Regions from separate parts of the Homo sapiens genome. Here regions 2 and 3 are each linked to region 1. The links come from fine-mapping of genetic effects on gene expression. A gene starts in region 1. Each other region holds a variant in brackets. All regions are shown on one strand. Distances are from middle to middle.

Region 1 (4,354 bases):
AAGAAGCAAGGGCAGTTGGAGAAAGGGTAGAGGAACCCTTAGGAAGACATGATTGTGTTAATGTGAAATCTGGAAAGTAAAACGGAAGTGGCTATTTGGTCCATGCAGCAGCACCCAGAACAACCCTTAAATATAAGACGTACTCAGTAAAGACAAAACTGAAAAAAGAAGTTGGGGCTTAACTAAGCAGCAAACTTTCCCCAGTTTTAATCAAACAGATAATCACTGGCTCTTCTGTAGAAGGCAGAAGTTTCTTCCCTGGTACTTCCCCAACAGAGTAGAACTGTCAGCACAGTTCCTATTTTGTGAGTAGAATAAGTTCTAATTTTTTTTATTCTGTGAAAAGTGTAGCCATTGAAAATTTTCAATAGGCATATGAAAGCAGTGTTTAAGGAAAATTAATATGGCCATGATATGTGATTCAGGTTAAAGGGAGAATGATGTCAGTGAGTATGGCTGGAACTCAGGTGCATCATCCAGGTGAGAGAAAATGAAAGCCATTAGGGGAGTTTTCAGTGAGGAAGAGAACAGAGGTACATAATAAAATAAAACAATTTAAAAGTTACATAGTTTAAACTGATAGAACTTGATTATCAATAAGATGAAAAAGAAAGGAAAATATACCAGATTTTACTCTATGATTTATAATCAGAGGAACTCAGAGGGAACATTGTTAGTGACAGAAATGGTGATGTAGCTGAAAAGACAAGTTTTTGGAGGAGATAATTCTTTCCTTCATCTCCTCCGATGTGAATGAGAAACAGTGGTTGGTTTTTTACCATCTTCCTGAAAATAAAAGGCTGTATCTCAAAAAACAAAAAACAAAAAACAAAAAAAAAAAGGAAGGAAGACAAATGCCCAGAAGTGTTAAGACACATGGCCAGCAGAGACTTTTCCAAAGTCCTTCACTTGGCTGGACTAGGTTCTAGGCCTTAGAGCTGACTGTGGGTGGATGACAGGGAAAGCAGAATGACACGGTTTGAGAAAAGAAAGGGCAGGCACACCAAGTCACTGCTCTGCTACTCAGTTGGAACATGCCTGGATTTCGTGCTTATTACATAGAGTATTTCCGTGCCTGCGATGCAATCACTATCACCTCTACCTCCACACACGTGAACCTGGTCTCCTGACTTTAGTTAGGAAAGAAGAGAACAATGCAACTCACAAGAGGAGAAGGATGAGGACAAGTGTTTAAAATAATTTTTCAAAGCTGTTGGCACATTTTCTTTATGATTATTGTCTGGTGAACCTAGTGAAAATAAATACTGTATTGAGATAATCTGTGCCGAGCGGATTTATTTCCTTTTGTTTTGTCGGAGAAAGGAGGACAGGTACTGAGTTGCACCCTGGTTTCCGTACTTCACGGTACTGTTTTATCTAAGTTTTAAAAAACACCTCAAATTCAACTAGCTGTGGCATTTTTCTCAGTGCTCTTATCACTATGCCCAATTTAAATTTTTTAAATAAAACAGGAAAAGATGCTAAACACATTACAAGTTCTTAAAATTATTCCTTAATATTTATTTTGGGTCAATTTAAAAAGGCTTGTGAATCCATAGCCTTGAGTTAATATTTAGCCCAGGTGTTAGTTAAATTCTAACTTCAACAGTCACCCGCACTTGTAAATCTTGCCCTACGATGGACTACGTTTCCCAAGAGCACCCCCCGAGTTAATCACATGAAGCGCATTCTGGGAATTGTAGTCTCGGATGAGCCTCTTTCTCCCAGTCTTGGACTCACGCGCTGATTCCGGTTGAACCCAGGGGCTACCAATTAGCTGGGGCCATGTCCGTGAGTCGTGGTCCAACCGAGAAAGCTGGTGTGGGAGCTTCGTACAATGATTGGCCAATGAATGACCCCCGGGGCGGAGCAATGGGGGTGGGCGGGGAGACCATGGTGATTGGACCAGAAGCCCGCGACGGCGGGCGGGGATTGGCTGCGCGCTGGGTCAGGGAAGCCTGGGAAGGGGCGGAGGAAGGAGACTAGAGCAGGAAGAGCAGCGGCGAGGCGGCGGTGGTGGCTGAGTCCGTGGTGGCAGAGGCGAAGGCGACAGCTCTAGGGGTTGGCACCGGCCCCGAGAGGAGGATGCGGGTCCGGATAGGGCTGACGCTGCTGCTGTGTGCGGTGCTGCTGAGCTTGGCCTCGGCGTCCTCGGGTCAGTATCCGCCCCCTCGGGCTGAAGGCCCAGAGCCTCCGCCCCCCAGCCTCTACAGCCGGCGGGGCCGTGGGGACTCCAGGCTCGGGACCCCGTTCTCCCTGGGCACATCTCGCACTGGGCTGTCACTCGCTCTTTGGCTTTGCTTGGCCTGCGCCAAAGGGGCTATTTAGGAAGGTGGAGTGGGGTGGAAAAAGAAGGGGCGGTCACCCTGCCCACACCTCTCTCCCACGTAACAAACTTTGCGCGACTCTTCTCACGAACGCGGAATTGACTCCAAAGGAATGAATCCTGATACAGGAGCCCGAGTGGAGCTTCCTCGACCCTGGGGTAGAGGAAGGGTCTGGTCTAGAACTCTGGGCTTGGGAATTGTAAGTTAAATAATTGACAAACCTGGAGCTGTCACTTTGGGGCAGAGGAGGATCCATCCAGACCAGGATGTTGACAGTAGTTTGCTTAACACCTGAGATGGTCCCTGGTCTGTCTGTTTAAAAACGAAGACTTTTGATCTCATCGTAGCCACTTTTTACTTTTTTGAAACCTTCCTGAGAAAGCGGTGACCTGTCACAGTGTTTCTGAGTTGCCCCATGTTTGTTGACAGTCATTTTATGATGTTTGGGAAAATCTTGGTTCTTATAAGATGCGTTTTATATAGATACAGAAATTTGTGTGCTTTTGAATTGATTTTCCAGTTAGCTAATGTTTATTCTGGTTCTGCTTTTTTCCCCCTTTTTTAATGTTTTAATCTGCCTACATTTGAAAATTTCCATTTTGAGAGTGTTCATGAAAACTTCGTGTTTCTAAGTGTTGATAAATAAAAATTAGTACAGTAAAACTTTGGAATTTTAATCAGTTTCAGTTAACAGGACAGGTGTTCTGTGGCTTGACGTTTTGGGGGGACAACACGGAGTATAAATGTCAGCTTTTTCTTTTTTTAATAAATGTCAGCTTTTTTTTAACAGAAAATTTCCCAGATGGTTATCTGAATCCCCAAATTACCTGTCCTAGTTGTAAATCAATGCCATAACGTCATTCTGCTTCTAAAATAAGAGGCTTAAACCTAAATTCTATCCATGATGTGGTTTGAGATACCATTTCAAAAGCACCAACCCTATGCTAATTACTTTACTGCCAACATCATTCTTTCAGGTCCACTCCCCTCCCTCCAGTAGTAGTGATGGTTTGAGTTAATGACCAGATCTTTAGACTATACTTAACTCTCGAAGCACTTTTAGCAGTTATTTAATATTTGATCAAAAAGCATGAAATGAAGCTGTTGAGCTTAATGAGTAGAGTACCTGCTGGACCATGGACCTCCTGCATCAGAATTCCTCTTATGGGTTTGTTAAACATTGGGTTTTAGGTCTGGAACAGCTCAGGTATACATAGATTAACAATCTCCATGAGGGATTCTTCACACTAAAGAGAACTACAGTAATGAAAGAGCACGGTGTGTATCCCTCTGAATTTAATTGGCAGAGTTTAAAGAAAATTAAAGCATAGGAATTGTGCTGTCTGTCTTTGACTGCATTTTATATACTTAGAGCTCCATGCCAGTGGAAAAGATATTTGAAGATCAACAGTTGGGGCTTTCAGGATGTTGTAATAAAAGACTTAACACTGATATATTAAATCCTTGGGTTGTATTGATGTAGGTAGAGGACTGTATTCAAGAAATGTCTGCTCTGATTTCCATCATAGTTAAAGCTGTGCCACAACATTTCAATGGTAAAGGCAGAAGCCTTAGCCAGAACTAAAACAATGTAGATGTGCATGCTAAAAGGTAATAAAGGCAGTGCTGTGCTCACATGAAGTTCATATATCATAAAACACCTGTGCGGGCCCAGCTCATACCTGTAATCCCAGCACTTTGGGAGGCTGAAGTGGAAGGATCACTTGAGCCCAGGAGTTCAAGACCAACCTGGGCAACATGGCGAAACCCCATCTCTACGTAACTCCAGGTGTGATGGTGCACACGTGTAGTTCCAGCTACTCGGGAGGCTGAGGTGGCAGGATGGAGTGAGCCCCAGGAGGTTGAGGCTGCACTGAGCTGTGATTATGCCACTGCACTCCAGCCTGGACAATAGAGCGAGACCCTGTCTCAAAAAAAAAGAAAAAAAAACAACCCTGTGTTAAATAAAGTTGTGTAAATTAAGCTATGGATTTTCAATTGTGATTTTCATTCACAGGGTTTCGGCC
Region 2 (4,354 bases), 59 kb after region 1:
TTCCTTGCCTGACATTTTAGTGATAATAATGGTTTCTATATTATTTTCATTAAGATTCGAGATATGTTCACCCAACTTGATATGGACCAGCTTTTGGGACCTGAGTGGGACCTTTACCTCATGACCATCATTGCGCTGCTGTTGGGAACAGTCATAGCTTACAGGCAAAGGCAGCACCAAGACATGCCTGCACCCAGGCCTCCAGGGCCACGGCCAGCTCCACCCCAGCAGGAGGGGCCACCAGAGCAGCAGCCACCACAGTAATAGGCACTGGGTCCAGCCTTGATCAGTGACAGCGAAGGAAGTTATCTGCTGGGAACACTTGCATTTGATTTAGGACCTTGGATCAGTGGTCACCTCCCAGAAGAGGCACGGCACAAGGAAGCATTGAATTCCTAAAGCTGCTTAGAATCTGATGCCTTTATTTTCAGGGATAAGTAACTCTTACCTAAACTGAGCTGAATGTTTGTTTCAGTGCCATATGGAATAACAACTTTCAGTGGCTTTTTTTTTTCTTTTCTGGAAACATATGTGAGACACTCAGAGTAATGTCTACTGTATCCAGCTATCTTTCTTGGATCCTTTTGGTCATTATTTCAGTGTGCATAAGTTCTTAATGTCAACCATCTTTAAGGTATTGTGCATCGACACTAAAAACTGATCAGTGTAAAAAGGAAAACCCAGTTGCAAGTTTAAACGTGTTCGAAAGTCTGAAAATAGAACTTGCCTTTTAAGTTAAAAAAAAAAAAAGCTATCTTGAAAATGTTTTGGAACTGCGATAACTGAGAAACTCTTACCAGTCCACATGCAATTAGACATATTCAGCATATTTGTTATTTTAAAAGGGAGGGTTGGGAGGTTTCTTATTGGTGATTGTCACACGGTATACCATACTCCTCTCCTTCAAAGAATGAAAGGCCTTGTTAAGGAGTTTTTTGTGAGCTTTACTTCTTTGGAATGGAATATACTTATGCAAAACCTTGTGAACTGACTCCTTGCACTAACGCGAGTTTGCCCCACCTACTCTGTAATTTGCTTGTTTGTTTTGAATATACAGAGCCTTGATCCAGAAGCCAGAGGATGGACTAAGTGGGAGAAATTAGAAAACAAAACGAACTCTGGTTGGGGTACTACGATCACAGACACAGACATACTTTTCCTAAAGTTGAAGCATTTGTTCCCAGGATTTATTTTACTTTGCATTTCTTTTTGCACAAAGAACACATCACCTTCCTGAATTCTTTAAATATGAAATATCATTGCCAGGGTATGGCTTACAGTGACTACTATTATAATACTAAAACTCAGAGAATCAAAGATGGATTAAACTCAGTGGTTGATGAAAGCCAAAACCTGTTTGTACTGTTCTATACTATTCAGGTATCTTTTTATTTCTGATAGTTTTATATTATAATAGAAAGCCAGCCACTGCTTAGCTATCATAGTCACCATTTTCTCACTGTTAACATTAGGAAAATCAAGGCTACTATGCTTCAGGATTGTCTGGTTAAATAGTATGGGAAAAAAACTGAAGAGTTTCACATAATTACACACGTGAAATAATTAAAGCTTAAACTGAATTTGTATTTCATTTTATTGTCAGATGGTGGTGTTCACCAGCCTGTATCTTGTCTGAGACTGCATTCGTATCTGAGCAGGTTTTCTATGCCTACTGATGTCAGTATGTTTATACTAACCTTCATGCTTTTTTCCCAGAATCCCTCATCTGCCAGAAAACTTGAAAAGTTTATTGCTTGTAGAGTTGTACTGCTTTGATTTTTGAAGTTGGGGTAGTAGTTAGAACTAGATTTAACTAGTCTATAATGAACATGAAGGCTTTTATATATGAAGTTGTATACCTTTTTGTGTTTAGAGAATTATGGGAAACCTGGTAAGCAAAACTTTCCTCCCAGATAATTGCTTCCAAATTCGAAGAGTTAGTCACCAAGAGAGCCATATGTATGAAAGCGTATCTGTGAAAGGTAGGAAACTTACCCCCCCTAAGTGTAATGTTGCTTTAGGCAACTCTTGTAAATAGTGAGACTTGTTTGGTCTCTTACATGTAGAGATTTGAGTGCAGTTGGTACAGTACTTTGGTGTCTCCACCACTGTCCCTTCTCCCCGCTTCAAAATAAGTGTAATCCACGGTAGCAGCCACACTTCCTTTAGAAGGAACTGTTATAATTTATTTAAAAGTTGAAAAACCACCCAAGATGACTACCAACTTTCACTTTTTTCTTCTGCCATCCACC[C/G]TCATTTTTCCTTTAGCAAGATTTTTATATCTAACTTTCCTTCCCTCCATTGAGTACGTGCTTTGAGAAAACATTTCTTAAAACAGTGTGTGCCACCTAAGGCTGGATGGGAAAGTGCAGTCTTGTTGTTCATATAAAAACACACTTCTTATTAGTTTACCACTTGCCTTTTTCTATTGTTAATGTTCTGAATTTCCTTTTCTTGGCTTGTTTCTACTTCATTTTACCCTGGGTCACTTGCTGCCAGCAGTTTGTGAATGGTGTCTTTCAAATAACTTAGTTCTTATGGCTTCACTTAAAGACTGTCTCAAAAATACTTTGCTCTCTTCTTCTTTTTTGTTCATGGGACATGGTACCTAAGCAAATAGGAGTTGGGTTTGGTTTTTCTCCTAAAATAATGCTCAATACTTACCTAATCAAATGGCATCCATTTGAATAAAATGACAATAACTAAAGCTAGTTAATGTCAGTGACATTAAACTAACTCCAGGATTCAGGAGTTTTAATGTTAGAATTTAGATTTAACAGATAGAGTGTGGCTTCATTTGTCCATGGTAGCCCATCTCTCCTAAGACCTTTTCTAGTCTGTCTTCCTGCCTTCGAACTTGATGACAGTAAAACCCTGTTTAGTATTCTCTTGTGCATTTGGTTTGTTGGTTAGCCGACTGTCTTGAAACTATTCATTTTGCTTCTAGTTTTATTTTACAGAGGTAGCATTGGTGGGTTTTTTTTTTTTTTTCTGTCTCTGTGTTTGAAGTTTCAGTTTCTGTTTTCTAGGTAAGGCTTATTTTTGATTAGCAGTCAATGGCAAAGAAAAAGTAAATCAAAGATGACTTCTTTTCAAAATGTATTGTTTAGCACTTAACTCAGATGAATTTATAAATTATTAATCTTGATACTAAGGATTTGTTACTTTTTTGCATATTAGGTTAATTTTTACCTTACATGTGAGAGTCTTACCACTAAGCCATTCTGTCTCTGTACTGTTGGGAAGTTTTGGAAACCCCTGCCAGTGATCTGGTGATGATCTGATGATTTATTTAAAGAGCCGTTGATGCCTCCAGGAAACTTAAGTATTTTATTAATATATATATAGGAATTTTTTTTTATTTTGCTTTGTCTTTCTCTCCCTTCTTTTATCCTCATGTTCATTCTTCAAACCAGTGTTTTGGAAGTATGCATGCAGGCCTATAAATGAAAAACACAATTCTTTATGTGTATAGCATGTGTATTAATGTCTAACTACATACGCAAAAACTTCCTTTACAGAGGTTCGGACTAACATTTCACATGCACATTTCAAAACAAGATGTGTCATGAAAACAGCCCCTTTACCTGCCAAGACAAGCAGGGCTATATTTCAGTGACAGCTGATATTTGTTTTGAAAGTGAATCTCATAATATATATATGTATTACACATTATTATGACTAGAAGTATGTAAGAAATGATCAGAACAAAAGAAAATTTCTATTTTCATGCAAATATTTTTCATCAGTCATCACTCTCAAATATAAATTAAAATATAACACTCCTGAATGCCTGAGGCACGATCTGGATTTTAAATGTGTGGTATTCATTGAAAAGAAGCTCTCCACCCACTTGGTATTTCAAGAAAATTTAAAACGATCCCAAGGAAAGATGATTTGTATGTTAAAGTGACTGCACAAGTAAAAGTCCAATGTTGTGTGCATGAAAAGGATTCCTTGGTTATGTGCAGGGAATCATCTCACATGCTGTTTTTCCTATTTGGTTTGAGAAACAGGCTGACACTATTCTCTTTGATTAGAAAATAAACTCATAAAACTCATAATGTTGATATAATCAAGATGTAACCACTATAAATATGTAGAAGAGGAAGTTTTAAAAGACCTTAAGCTGGCATTGTGAAGGAACACCATGGTAGACTCTTTTTGTAAATGTATTTTGTATTTAATGAAATGCAGTATAAAGGTTGGTGAAGTGTAATATAATTGTGTAAACAAATCCTGTTAATAGAGAGATGTACAGAATCGTTTTGTACTGTATCTTGAAACTTGTGAAATAAAGATTCCACCTCTGGTTATCCTGTATGCTGTAATATACCACAACCAAGCACCTTTC
Region 3 (4,000 bases), 47 kb after region 1:
TTGTAAGCAAAGCTGAACCTCTTTCTGTTGTCTGAGTTTGTCTCACTACCACCCCATACCCGACAGACACCATCTCAACTGTCTTAGAACAGCTCTGTGTCTGGCACTTTCTCCCAGAGGTATGGAGTTGTTTCTTGTTCTTCCATCTCTGCTCTCTACCCCACGTCCTCTAACCATCTCTCAGGACTTAAACATCTCCTTGCCTGCTTTTTTACTCAATCCTGACAAAATGCATAACTGCCTTCCATTGAGGAGGAGGAAAGCTTTCTGTTCTGCCCTTTACCCCTTCTAGCTACCACCTGTCTTCTCCCAGCCCTTCACTCAGAGTCAAACTAAGCTGCTGTCATTCACTCTTGAGTTCTTAGCAATCGAACTTCTGCTTCATGGAACTATACTCTCTGTACAGATCACCAGTAACCTCCTAAATGTCGGTCCAATTGACATTTTTTGGTTCTACCTCACTTGACCTCTCGCTTCCCTGGTGTTCTGTCTGTGTCTGGGTTTCCTTGGCCATTGCATCTCATCCTTCTGTGCAGCCTCCTCATGTTGGATGTCCCTGGATTCACGTTGCAGTTTCCTTCTCTATTTGATCTTTCCAAGTAATATGTGCTTTTAATTTGAGGCTGAAACTAAGAGCTAGGTTTAAGAGCTAGGTTTTTAATATCTATAGGTATTCTCTAACACAAAAGACAGTAATGTGTTCTCATTTTGCGGCCTTCTAGTCATTCTAGGACACTAAAATTCAGTAGTAACCTTTATTTTAACTTTTCTTCTTGGATACATATGACCTTTGAAGTATAATAGTCATAGTGTTTGGTAAGGTACACGGAATAAATGAATAAGGAGATAATTTTCTTTCTTTAATTTTAGGAAAATTGAGGTTTAAAAAGGGTTGATTGGTTAGCAGAGAAGATTGACTGTTTCTTAATTCCTGGTCTGATGTTCTACTAGTTTTTATGCTTTCTGAGAGCAGCATACAAATTGTTTCACAAAAACTCTATTTACTTTTCTTCACCACCTTAAATATTAATCCCCCTATGACTTAATGTATATTATTATCTATTATAAGAATTAGAAAGTGGTCTTTTTAATGGCTCTTTGGGAATATTTTTTTATATGCTTTGTTCATTTTTTTAAATAAATCTCTTAACTTTTGAGTATGTCTGCCTTTTGAGCTTTCTCATCATATGACATCTTTTTCTACAGAATTATGATCTAGCCCTTAAGTATTTCCAGAAAGCTGCTGAACAAGGCTGGGTGGATGGGCAGCTACAGCTTGGTTCCATGTACTATAGTAAGTAACACTGGAATTAATGATGGATACACCAAGATCTAAATTAAGCTGTTTTCTACTAGATGGCATTATGATGTGGAAATGGGTGCTATCAAATTCTGGCTGGTTAAATGTTCTCCCAGTTCAATGATTTGTACATCTTGTTTTTCATTGTAAATTATATTAATCTGTATCAGTGTGTTAGCTTGTATTAGATTCACATATTTACTCAGTAAGAATTCTTTCATTAGAGTTTTATTCTTCATATATAAGCCTTCTCTGATACTTAGCTAAATCTTAAGTCTATTATCTCGTGTGATTTTTTTTTTTCTTACAGATGGCATTGGAGTCAAGAGAGATTATAAACAGGCCTTGAAGTATTTTAATTTAGCTTCTCAGGGAGGCCATATCTTGGCTTTCTATAACCTAGCTCAGATGCATGCCAGTGGCACCGGCGTGATGCGATCATGTCACACTGCAGTGGAGGTAAGGTCTTTCCTACCAGCTTGTGTGTAGGGAGTTGATTTGCCCAGCAGGAAAGTCTGCGCTTTCAATTCTGGTTTTTTTGTATGTTTTCTTCTGTAGTTCTAGACTCAGCCTACCTAGCTTTGATATACTGAGGGAAGACCGAGGGGTCTGTGTGTAATTACCATACTTATTTATTCAGTGTCTCCCTATTACAATCAACTGTATAAGGGGAGATACTGGTGTCTGCAGTATCTCTAGCACCTAAGACAGTATCTGATAATAATCAGCATCAAAAAAATATATAAGCTGAGCACAATGGCACGTGCCTATAGTCCCAGCTACTTAGGAGGTTGAGGTGGATGAAGGCTTGAGCCCAGGAGTTTGAGACCAACCTGGACAACATAGAAAGAACCTATCTCTTAAAAAAAAAAAAAAAAGAAAGAAAGAAAAAGAAGTTGAATGAATGTTCCAAAAAGGAATGCTAATATCTCCTAATTGGAAATTGTCTC[T/C]TAGCTCTCTCTTAGACTTGGCACTTTAGAGTGACATTGATAAATGCTTAGCAAAGTTTCTAAATCTCTGTGCTTTAGTTTACTCACTTGTCAAATGGGGCTTTTAACAGGACTTACCTCCTAGGGTGGTTCCTCATGAATCTCATGGGAAGATTAAGAATGGTAATATACATAAATCATTACAACAGTGCCCGGGCAGAGTAAATGGTCATTTTTGTAGTACAATAATTGTGTACTGTTTTTTTTTTTTATAAACCTGTTGACTTCTAAAGAGTAAGTGAAAACTTTAAATAAGTATCTCAAACTTTTATGTCTGTTCAAGAAAGCTGCCAGAAATTGAAGGAGCAAGCTTAATAGTCATGTGTAACCAAAGTGCATAAGTGATTTTCTGGTATATCTTTCTTATTTTCTTCTACTGATATTTTTTTTCCCCACCTCACACAGTTGTTTAAGAATGTATGTGAACGAGGCCGTTGGTCTGAAAGGCTTATGACTGCCTATAACAGCTATAAAGATGGCGATTACAATGCTGCAGTGATCCAGTACCTCCTCCTGGCTGAACAGGGCTATGAAGTGGCACAAAGCAATGCAGCCTTTATTCTTGATCAGAGTAAGGTTCATTTTAGTCCTGCCTTAGGTTTAGAATGTACGAGTTCACACCAGTAAACTGTTTAATGTATTCAAAAAGAAAAGCTACTAGGAAACATTCTTTATTATTGTAACTGGAACTGAACACACAGGCTTAAGTTATTAATATTTTACTTTAGCCATCAAAGTTAGTTTTATAACGAGTTGACTGTAGAAATGGATTTGACATTCATTTTAAAATTAAGCACTTTGCATAAATGTATTTTTCAAAATACAGTGGATACAAAAATGCCATTTTCCCAACACTGTAGAAGAGTGACTCAGTAGTCTCATGACTGGTTCTATAGATACAACATGTTTCACAAAGTAGTGCCCTCTTGCATCCAGTGATTGCTTTGAACTCACTATTTTAGTTCAGTAATTAATTTCAGTATTTGTTTTAATTTTTATATCCTAATTCTTGTTTAACTTATGCTTCACCTATCCTTCCTACTTTGCAAATGAAAATTAAGTCTAGTGCCTTTTCTTAAATGCCTGATTTGTATTTCATTTCTTTTCCTGTAGGAGAAGCAAGCATTGTAGGTGAGAATGAAACTTATCCCAGAGCTTTGCTACATTGGAACAGGGCCGCCTCTCAAGGTAAGTGATTAATTCTAAGATAAGAGTTTCACCCAGGGACCTCCCTATGTTGTTTATCTCCCATGAACATTAAATCATGAAGCCGAGTACTGTGGCTCACGCCTGTAACCCTAGCACTTTCGGAAGCCAAGGCAGGAGGATCACTTGAGGTCAGGAGTTCGAAACCGAAACCAGCCTGGCCAGCATAGTAAAACCCTGTCTCTACTAAAAAAAAAAAAAACAAAAAAAATTAGCTGGGCATGGTGGCAGGCTCCTGTAATCCCAGCTACTCAGGAGGCTGAGGCAGGAGAATCGCTTGAACCTGGGAGGCAGAGGTTACAGTGAGCCAAGATTATGCCACTGCACTCCAGCCTGGGCGACAGAGCGAGACTCCTTCTCAAAACAATAAAATAATTAATTAAGCAGAGATACTGTGACTTAATTTGTTTGCATATTATTGGTATTTATTCTTAACAGAAGTTTCTAGAGCCAGAGTTTCTAAATTGGGTTGTAAAGTCTTTGTACTACACATTTCCATCAAGCT

Evidence for each region. PIP is the estimated chance that this variant, and not a neighbour inherited with it, causes the effect. A credible set is the group of variants that fine-mapping cannot tell apart.
Region 2: its variant is the best candidate, but not a certain one, in a credible set for the expression of SEL1L in whole blood (TOPMed, PIP 0.70).
Region 3: its variant is the best candidate, but not a certain one, in a credible set for the expression of SEL1L in whole blood (INTERVAL, PIP 0.57).

The regions. Positions count from the first base shown.
Region 1 is chr14:81,531,476-81,535,829 of GRCh38, reverse strand. SEL1L (SEL1L adaptor subunit of SYVN1 ubiquitin ligase) reads left to right here and starts at 1,977. Exons shown (of 21, transcript NM_005065.6): 1 at 1,977-2,155. The coding sequence starts at 2,086. RefSeq lists a silencer at 1,854-1,973 and an enhancer at 1,690-2,189.
Region 2 is chr14:81,472,882-81,477,235 of GRCh38, reverse strand. It overlaps SEL1L (SEL1L adaptor subunit of SYVN1 ubiquitin ligase), which reads left to right. Exons shown (of 21, transcript NM_005065.6): 21 at 55-4,354. The coding sequence ends at 264. Among named protein-coding and RNA genes, the nearest start is that of LINC02308, 25 kb to the right of the region's middle. The variant C/G (reference allele first, on the strand shown) is at 2,253.
Region 3 is chr14:81,485,149-81,489,148 of GRCh38, reverse strand. It overlaps SEL1L (SEL1L adaptor subunit of SYVN1 ubiquitin ligase), which reads left to right. Exons shown (of 21, transcript NM_005065.6): 15 at 1,207-1,294; 16 at 1,611-1,759; 17 at 2,695-2,860; 18 at 3,403-3,477. Among named protein-coding and RNA genes, the nearest start is that of LINC02308, 37 kb to the right of the region's middle. The variant T/C (reference allele first, on the strand shown) is at 2,251.